Linked DNA regions of Homo sapiens: region 2 is linked to region 1. Evidence: fine-mapped expression QTL. A gene starts in region 1. The other region holds a variant in brackets. All regions are shown on one strand. Distances are from middle to middle. Region 1 holds the start of TTC7B (tetratricopeptide repeat domain 7B). Region 2 overlaps TTC7B (tetratricopeptide repeat domain 7B).

What was found. PIP is the estimated chance that this variant, and not a neighbour inherited with it, causes the effect. A credible set is the group of variants that fine-mapping cannot tell apart.
Region 2: its variant is the best candidate, but not a certain one, in a credible set for the expression of TTC7B in whole blood (INTERVAL, PIP 0.61).

Annotation. Positions count from the first base shown.
Region 1 is chr14:90,814,383-90,819,813 of GRCh38, forward strand. TTC7B (tetratricopeptide repeat domain 7B) reads right to left here and starts at 2,048. Exons shown (of 20, transcript NM_001010854.2): 1 at 1,793-2,048. The coding sequence starts at 1,913. RefSeq lists a silencer at 2,042-2,221.
Region 2 is chr14:90,731,202-90,736,201 of GRCh38, forward strand. The region is part of intron 4 of TTC7B (tetratricopeptide repeat domain 7B); the gene reads right to left. Among named protein-coding and RNA genes, the nearest start is that of TTC7B-AS2, 36 kb to the left of the region's middle. The variant C/T (reference allele first, on the strand shown) is at 1,922.

The DNA.
Region 1 (5,431 bases):
CACTATCTGAAGCTGTGCTGTTTATTTATTTCCATATTTGCTTATCACCTGCCTCCTGAGAGCAGGGTGAGGGCATAAGGGCAGGGGCTTGGTCAGTGCTGTTCACCACTGTTCTGTGACTGGCACAGGTGGGCACGCAAATATTGGGTGAATGAATAAGCAAAGACAGCAGGAAACAAGTGGATTCAGAAGAAAAAAGACCAGGAGGCTCACAAATAAACCCATTTAATCCTAAAATCAACCTGCACAGAAGGTGTCATTATGCCTACACCGCTGGGAAGCCACAAAGTAGACCCAGGACTGTGCAACTCCGAGAGGAAAAGAGAAAATGCTGCAGGTAAGCGGAGAAGCAGGTGAGCCCGACACGGAGGGCAAAGGCAAGCTGCCTCTGGGGCCCAGGGCACTGAACACCATCTCCTCAAAGGCTGACATAACTGAGAAGGGTCCACATTTTCCACCAAGTGGAGCCCGTGTAGGGTCGGTGCTATCTCCATGCCCCTGACACACCATGGCACCTGCGTTCACCCAGAAGGTACCTGCCCACAGCATGCATCCATCATTGAGAGTGCGCAAAACCAAGTTCTAATTTCCAGGCACTAATACCATAGGACACAAACATAAACCACCCTCCAGGAGGACACCTGACATCCCTCTCCTTTCTGGGTAGTCTGAAGTGAGAAGGTTGAAAATAGTGCAGATGTCCTTTCTTAGAGCAGCCCCGCCATCCATTCATTCACTCTTTCATTCATTTGTTCAGCCAACATGTGCTCACTGGGCCTGGGGAAGCCCAGGATGAAATGAGACAAACCCTCTGCCCTCTGGCCACGGTGTGCTGGTGCCTGCGCTTTAGGCGGGTACTAAAAGACAAGCAAATATTAAAGATACTCGCTTCCAAAACAAATAAGGCCACGTGGAGCTGTGCACTGGAATGGGATTCTGGATGCAATTTTATTTGATTGGGTACAAGAACCAATCCAGTTAAAGGGGTCATGAACCAACTCCAGGCACCAGGCTCCTACTCAGAGGCTGCCTCAGACCCCCTTCTGGCCCAGGCACCAACCCCTCACCCACCCAACTCCATCTCCCGACATTCTTCAACCACATTCCCATCTCGCTCCACAATATTCTCCCTCCAGGTCCCCCTGACTCTATTTCTCCTCTATTCCCAACCCTGACCTCTCTAGGTCGGCAGCCTTGATGCTACTTCTCCGAACGCCAGGACGCACATCCCAGCCTGCTTTCTACCACCACCCCACACACCTCGAGTCTGCGCTTCCACCCAGAACCCCTTAAACACCATATGTTTACAAACCAGATTCCCCAGGGGTCTATGTACAACACCCCATTCTCAAGACCCCATAAACACATCCTGATTCCCTGAGCACACCATACACACACTGTGGACTTCACCCATGTCCTGAGGGACCCCCTCACCCCATCACCTCCAACTTCTTGGAAGCCCCAGGCCGGCCCCTGACCTCCTGTGGTCCCAGTGGAGCAGCGGACTCGCTGAGACCCCCGGACACCCCAGACTCCGCAGAAGCCCGCCCTGCACGCTTGAACCCCAGGCGCCGGGACAGCCCCTGGCGCCCCCCCGGGCCCCCACACCGCGTGACTCCGGGGCACCCGGGCTCCCCCAGGCCCCGGTCCCGCGCACATCCCCTGGGCCGCAGCTCCCTCGCGGCCCGGCCGCGCCCCTGCCCGCGCCCCGCGCCCGGCCGCGCCTCGGGGGCCCGTTCCCGCGGAGGCCGCGGCGCCCCCCGCAGCCCAGGCCGGCGCGCCCGGAGCGTACCGTTGGCGATGAGCTTGGCCGACAGCTGCTTGACGAGCTCAGGGATCCGCTCCCACTGGCACTCGGAGCGGCAGCGCTCGATCTCCGTCTCCAGCCGCGAGCCTGCCTTCTTGGTCGCCATCGCGGCCTGGCCGGGCCCGGCCGCCCGCCCCGCAGGCCCCACCGCCGCCGCCGCGGCGCCCCCTCGCCGCCTCCCGCCGCCGCCGCGGGCTCGGGCTCCGGCTCCCGGCTCCGCGGCGTAACGGGAGCGCCGGCTGGGGAAGGGGCGGGGAGGCGGGCGGCGGCGGCGGGCGCGGCGGGGCCCCGGGCGCCGCGAGGAGCGGCCCCTGCCGGCCAGGGCCGGAGCCGCAGCACTGACCGGGGCCGGAGCCAGGGCTGGGGCAGGGGCGGGGGCTAGGGCGGGAGACAGGGGCCCGAGGGAGGAAAGGCGGGGTGGGCATGGAGGACAGGGAGAGGGACTGGGGGTGTCTGGGGCGGGGTGAAGACCGAGGGGAAGTGGGGATGGGGGTGGGGGAGCGGGGTAGGAGAGAGATCTGACCAAGGGCGGGTGAGGGGTCTGGTGGGGTAGGGGTCTGGGCAGGATGAAGGGGAGGGAGAGGATCGGGAGGGAGCTAGCGACAGCCTGGGAGCGGGTTGGATCCCCAGGAGTAGGGCCAAGAAAGGGCAGTGACCCTGGGGAAGGTCACCGCCCGGTGGGACCAGTGAGCCAGGTGTGAGGGGTGGGGGGAGGCCTGCCCGAGTTTGTCCTGCCATCTCAGGTGGCCAGCGGTTCCCTGGGGCCCGGTTGGCCTGTGCCCCTTAGCAGATGCCCCTCTGCCCCGCAGCCTTAGCCCCTACCCAGCCAGAGGTGGACGGAGACTCCTCCATCCCAGGCAAGGCACAGCACCTGCCAGGGGTGCCCTAGATGGCTGAGCGGAGCCAGGCAGGGGCTGCCACTCTCACACGCCAGCTCTCGGACCCCCTGAGGGGAAGGCACAGTCACTGGTGGGGCCTCCTGTCTTGGCCACCTAGACTGAGACCTAGGGAGGTGTCCCTCTGTGTTCTCTCAGTGAATCAACTGTCTAGTGATCACCTACTATGTGCTGGGCGCTGCTTTAGGTGCCAGAGATAGAATTGTGAGCTAAAAAAACAAAATTCCTGGCTTGAGAGAGCTTACATTCCAGTTTGGGGGAAAAATAAGCAAAATAAAATAGTAAACTAGACTGTAAAAATGGCTATTTGAAGAAACAGGGAAGGGTTCAGTGAGGAACATAAAGAGTTGGGACAGGCGGGTGGCTCATGCCTGTAATCCCAGCTACTCAGGAGGCTGAGGCAGGATGATTGCTTGAGCCCAGAAGGTGGAGGCTGCAGTGAGCAGTGAACGCACTTCAGCCTGAGCAAGTGTTGCCATTTAAAATGGAGCAGTCAGGGATGGCCTCACGGAGGTGGCATTAGACTTGAAGAAACTAAGGGGGAGCCATGAGGATATCTCTGGGGGAGGAGTATCCCAGGCAGAGAACACCACAAGTGCGAAGGCTCTGGGGTTAGAGCACACTGGGTGGGATGGAGAAATGGCAGAGGCCAGAGGGGCTGGGTGGAGCGAAGGAGAGGGGCCGAGGCAGGAGATGAACTCTGAGAGGTTGGGGGGAGTTCTGTGTAGTGCCTGGTGGGCCATTATAAGACCTTGGCTTTTGGCTGGGCACGGTGGCTCACGCCTGTAATCCCAGCACTTTGGGAGGCCGAGGTGGGCGGATCACGAGGTCAGAAGATCGAGACCGTCCTAGCTAACATGGTGAAACCCGTCTCTACTAAAAATATTTTTAAAAATTAGCCGGGCGTGGTGGCAGGCGCCTGTAGTCCCAGCTGCTGGGGAGGCTGAGGCAGGAGAATGGTGTGAACCCGGGAGGCGGAGTTTGCAGTGAGCTGAGATGGCAGCACTGCACTCCAGCCTGGGCAACAGAGAGAGACTCCGTCTCAAAAAAAAAAAAAAAAACTTTGACTTTTACTCTGGTGACATGGAGCAGCCCTGCAGGGCTTTTCACGGAAGAGTGGCATGATCAGACCTACACTTTGGACTATCACTGTGACTGCAGTGTTGAGAATACTGCCAGGGAAATAGCTGTGGTGGTGGCAGTGTTGGATTCTGGGTCCTGCATTTGAGAGTGAAGCGGTCAGTCTGGAAGGTTCCGTAGCCCGCCCGCAGTCACAAGGAGGCACTGAGGGGTCGTCGTCATTCCTTCTGGGTGCCCTTACTCCAACTTTCCAAGAGCAGTCACACGCAGGTTCTTATCCCCACCACAACTCCCCCACCACCGGAGTTGATGAAGAACACACACTGTGGACCTCAGTTTACCAATGAGGAGGCTGAATCACAGACATTTAAGAGAGGTGAGGAGGAAAGATAAGGAGATGTGTTCTGATGTGACCAGTATCACTTTCAGGTGCCTCAGGGACTGCCAAGGTGATGGAAGTTGAGCTGACAGGCCCTGGACACTGTGAACAGCCCAGGGAAAGGGGAACTAGAACGTTAGAGTTTCAACAGGGGACCCTTTAGTGCCCTGGCCCTTAGCTCCCACCAAGAGGGAGCAGGAAGGGAAGGAGAAGAAATCTCCACAGGAGATGTTTCCTCTCTCCTGACACCCTCCTGTTCTCCCAACTCCAGTCTGCCTCTCCAGATTTGCTGGGAATGTTCTCCATCTGGACCAGGAGACAGATTCCTGTGCCTTCTTTCAGACACGGGCCAAAGGTTACTGGGCAGCCTTGCTCAACATCTGACAGACCTTGTGTGACAGCACTTGCCATCTCCCTCTGGGAAGGGGCAGGGTCTTAATCATGACTAACGCATACACTGCCTCAGTTGCCACACTGGAAGGTAAATGATGAGGGCCACCTGTCTGCCTCCCTACCTGATAAGGTGGCTTCATGAGGACGGATGCTGCCTGGGCCATGGCATTTAACATCCCCAGGCCTCCATTTCTTGGCTGTGATACCTCCCCCTGGAGCTCGTTGAGGAGGAAATGAGGAAATACAGGTAGGGCACAGAGAACAGTGCCAGCATGCCAGGCTCTGTGGCTCACGCCTGTAATCCCAGCAGTTTGGGTGGATCACGAGGTCAGAAGATCGAGACCTTTCTGGCTAACATGGTGAAACCCTGTCTCTACTAAAAATACAAAAAAATTAGCCGGGCATGGTGGTGGGCACCTGTAGTCCCAGCTACTCGGGAGGCTGAGGCAGGAGAATCGCTTGAACCCATGAGGTAGAGGTTGCATCTCCATCATGCCACTGCACTCCAGCCTGGGTGACAGAGCAAGACTCCATCTCAAAAAAAAAAACAGTGCCAGTGCACCAATAGAGTGCCATGTCGGCTGTCATTCTGTGTCTCTCTGCCCCTTGCAAGCCGCATAGGGCCTGGAACATTGTGGGAGCTTAAATGAACGAGGCTGGAGTCCCCAAGGTCTACAGCCACCTGCGAGTGCGTTTCCTTAGGATGAAACATCCCAATGATGAATCCATGTCACTACGTTCCAGGCTTCCACCGTCACGGCAGGCCACCTACAGGGGCCCAACACCAGAATATTCTTCAGACCATGTGCTTGGGCGCAGAGGTTGCTGGGTATAGGGGTTGGGAGCAGAGGCTGACAAACATTGTCAGCCTGAAGC
Region 2 (5,000 bases), 83 kb before region 1:
TGGCCTCCCAAAGTGCTGGGATTACAGGCGTGAGCCCCTGCGCCCGGCCTGCTGCTACTCTCTTTAAACTCACAAGTCAAAGCATTTCTCAGAGGAAAGCCTACTTGTGGCTCACATAAAAACCAATGTTCTCCAAACATGCCGTCCACATTTGCTGAAAGTCAGCAGCTCTTCAAAAGACCCAGTTGTTTGCCAAACCCCAAACATCCTAGAGGTCTTGAAACCTTAGTCTCCAAACAGAGTGGAAGTAATTATTAGTTCCCTAACCCACAAGCTTTGGGGAAAAGAAAGGTAGAAGGTACATGATAAACGAGACATCGAGGAATGAAACCCAGGTGGGCAACCCTTGCATGTGAACCGGATCCCAGCATCTTATAGAAATTGCCCAGCTCCGTCCTGACTTAGCCCTCAGCTCTGCACCCCTGACTCTCCGGGAGTTCCTCCTCTCTGGGAACCTCATTTCCACCCACTACAGGCTCCTCCTCCACTCATCCGTCAAGTGCCAGAGATGCACGCGGCACCATCGGAGCCACACTCCTTTCTCTCTTAGGTCTCTTGAGATGACCGCATCCATCCCTAAGAGCTTCAAAATCATCAGTATGCTGCCAACGCCCAAGTTTATAGCTGTAGTCAAGACTTTCTCTGTGAATTTCCAACTCACATATCCAACTGCTGCACTTGGAGGTCCAACACGGAAACTTTTAAAAATCATCCTTCATTTGCTTTTCAGCATAGTTTTAATTTTGACATGCCATGATTATTTTAAAGTAAAAAATTCAGTACAGCACAAAAAAGAAAATAAAAAAATCACCTCACAATTCCATCACACAAAAATAACCACAGTTAACATTTATTGAACGACAATCCAGATATCTTTGTGGACACATGTATCAAGCAGAGAAAGATAAAAATCATTTTACAAAAAAATGAGATCATGTTATATATGCTAGTTTTAAATTTAAATCATTATATTTAATTTAGTTAAATTTAACAGAAGGAACTAAAGTGTAACCAAAGTTACACTTTAGAAAGTTTGTCCCTCCTAATTATTTCTCAACTATGTCTGTGACTATCCATTTCTACTACCATTACATCATCCGAGCTGCCAGGACTTCCTGTTAGATTTCTACAACAGCCTCCTGAATGGAGTCTCCACGTCCTCTCTTGCTTCCCTATTTCCCTCACTCTCTATAAGCAGCCTGAATAATTTCTGTCACCCAAGCTGGAGGGCAGTGGCATGACCATGGCTCCCTGCAGCCTCAACCTCGCAGGCTCAAACGATCCTCCCACCTCAGCCTCCCAAGTAGCTGGGACTACAGGTGTGTGCCACCATACTCGGCTAATTCTTGTATTTTTTGTAGAGATGAGGTTTCACCATGCTGCCCAGGCTGGTCTTGAACTCCTGAGCTCAAGAAATCCAACTGCCTCGGCCTGCCAAAGTGCTGAGATTACAGGCATGAGCCACTGCGCCTGGCTCCTGAAAAATTTTTCATAATCCAGTCTGGATCATGAGCCACTGCGCCCGGCTCCTGAATAATTTTTCATAATCCAGTCTGGATCATGAGCCACTGCGCCCAGCTCCTGAATAATTTTTCATAATCCAATCTGGATTATGTTGCTCTTAAGCTCCTTTTCCTCTTTCTCATCTCTCAGATATCAGCTTGCTTCTGCTTCTTGCTTCCTCCGAAGGGCCTTTTCTAACAATCGGCATTAAGGAAGTCTGCCCTATTCGCCTGCCCACAGCATCCTTTCCTATTCCTTCATTACATTTGCCATTGTTATTTCTTCACTTGATTTCTGGCTGTCTCTCTCCACTGTGCTACAAATTCCACAAAGTCAGAGGCCACGCCTATTTTACTTACCCAGTGTCTAGTGCAGGATAAGCATTCAATATACATAGTAAATGAATAAACTTTCAAGG[C/T]CAATCATAAATGCAGAGAAAAGGCAACAGGAAAGTAACCCACTGTGTCTTAGGCACCATGTGGGTACATCGCTATCTCATGTATTCCTCCACAAAAACCCACCGAGATACACACCATTGTCCTCTCTTTACCAGAGGGGAAGCGGAGACTGCTCCACCAAGTGAGGTGCCCGAATCATGTGGCTTGAGAGCGGTGGAGCTGGTGCAGAAACCCAGATCCCCCTGACTCCACAGCCCGGCTCCTTCTCCTTCATCTGTGTCTGCTTGCAGAGCAAAGTCCAAAACACAAGGGCAGCCAGGAGGTGGCTTAAGGTTATAAATGGGAGAATGGGAAAGACGCAAGAGAAGCCTTGGAGGGACTAGCATAGCTCAGGGCTTACCCTGAAGTCTAAGCATCTTGAACTTAATCCCTTCCTCACAAAGAGCCTCCAACACATGGGCCTGGGCAGAAGCATTGTTTGGCAGTGCTGAAGCCACCACTTGTTCTGTGGATAAACACTTCCAGCGAGGAGACTGCCAACAAGCGTCCTTAACAAGCGCAGCTGGCTCTGGCAGAAGCAAGTACCCAATGACTGAGGAAGCACGGGGAAGGGGCTGAAGATTTTAGTCAAAAGACCGAGGCGCGAGGTCTGGTTCTGACACTGCTCACCCACCATTCGCGGACTTAGGACAACACCTCTGACCTCACAGACCTTCACTGCCCTCATCTATACAATGGGGATAATAATACCTACCTCACAAGGTTGGTTTGAATTGCAAATGAGAAACTTCACTTCATGAGCAAATACCATACATTATTATACAAATATTATAATCCTTAATGGAGTTATATTAACTGCATGAACAAATATTATACATTATTGTACAAATAGTATAATCCTTAATGGAGCTATATTAAAGAGTTACCTTTAAGTAGAAACAAAATAAAAATCTTTATTTCTTAACATCGTTTTATAAATTATGGCAATAAGGCATGAGACATATAAGATGGAAAATATTCGAAAGGAGGAAACAGGCCAGGCGTGGTGGCTCATGCTTGTAATCACAGCATTATGGGAGGCTGAGGTGGGTGGATTCCTCGAGCTCAGGAGTTCAAGACCAGCCTGGCCAACATGGCAAAACCCCGTCTCTACTAAAAATACAAAAACTTAGCCAGGTGTGGTGGCACGTGCCTGTAGACCCAGCTACTCAGTAGGCTGAGGCATGAGAATTGCTTGAACCTGGGAGGCGGAGAATGCAGTGAGCCAAGATTGCGCCACTGCACACCAGCCTGAGTGACAGAGTGAGACTCTGTCTCCCAAAAAAAAAAAAAAAGAAAGGAGGAAACAACGACAAAAATCATTCCACCTCATAGATCTATAGGCTGCAATGAGCTATGATCACTATCATGCTTTGAAAAGCATCAACTCTGTTTCTATAGAAGACTTCAGTATTATGGACAATAAACACCATCCTTGCCATCCTCGACACTGCTATCCTTGTCAGCCTTCAAGATGCTGCTCAGGCATCATCTCTTCCAGGAGACATCCCTGAACTCCCACACTGGCCCAAGGCCTTTTCTGGAGCTCTCAGAGTTCTCTGAGAATTCCCACCACAGCACTCCTCCTGGCTAAGGACCTGTGTCCTCATGAGCTTCTTTTTAAATTTTTATTTATTTTATTATTTATTTATTTATTTATTTTGGAGACGGAGTTTCTGTCGCCCAGGCTAGAGTACAGTGGCACGATCTCGGCTCACTGCAACCTCTGCCTCCCAGGTTCAAGTGATTCTCCTGCCTCAGCCTCCTGAGTAGCTGGGATTACAGGCATGCGCCACCACGCCCAGCTAATTTTTAAATTTTTAGTATAGACAAGATTTCACCATGTTGGCCAGGCTAGTCTTGAACTCCTGACCTCAGGTGATCCACCTGCCTCGGCCTCCCAAAGTGCTAGGATTACAGGTGTGAACCACTTAAGGGCAGGCTCTGTGACATACCCATTCTAGTGCCCCTGCAGTCAAACAGTATCCAGAACATGGAAGGCACTCAATACATGATTGTGCAAGTGAATTAAAACATCACAGGCACATTTATATGTTAAAATATAATTTCAAAAATGATCTAGGCCAGGCACGGTGGCTCACGCCTGTAATCCCAACACTTTGAGAGGCCAAGAAAGGTGGAATGCTTGAGACCAGGAGTTTGAGACCAGTCTGGGCAACATGGTGAGACCCTGGTCTCTACGAAAATGTTAAAAATTAGCCAGGTGTGGTGGTGTGTACCTGTAGTCCAAACTACTGGGGATGCTGAGGCGGAAGGATTGCTTAAGTCCAAGAGCTTGAGGTTGCAGTGAGCTATGATCACACCACTGCACTCCAGCCTGGGTGACAGAGTGAGACCTTGTCTCAAAAAAAAAAAAAAGATCCTATTCATAAAGCAATAAAAATAGAAAAGATCTGAGAATAAAACCACCTACTGGCCAGGTGCAGTGGCTCACGCCTGTAATCTCAGCACTTTGGAAGGCCAAGGTGGGTGGATCGCTTGAGGTCAGGAGTTCGAGACCAGCCTGGGCAACACAGCGAAACCTCATCACTTTTTTTAAATATTTTTTTTTTTTAAAAAACCTACTAAAGTCTATAGAACAAAAAAATCTTGACAAAATAGGAAGAGGGTCATAGATGACAGGAGACTAAATATAATTCTCCAAATTAATGTATGGAATTAAAAATTCAACCAAATCCCAAAAGGATTTTTCTTGAACTCAACAAAATTATTCTAAAATTTACCTGAAAGTATTAGAATGAGATAAGAACAAAGGATAACCTGAAAAATAAAAGTAATGAGTAGTTACTAATCATTTAAATGTTAAAACCTATCATAAAGAAGTGCCTATTAAACAGTGTCATGTTGGTACAACACAATTAAAAAGCCAGAATTTTATTGAATGACTAAAAATATATGACAGAAAATATGAAAAGGAAAGATCATCTTAAAGTAGCACTGAAATTTGGAAATTTGGGAAATTTTAATTGAGAAAAATTAATTTAGAGCTATATATATATATATATACCACAATGAACCCCAACTACATTTGGAAATTAA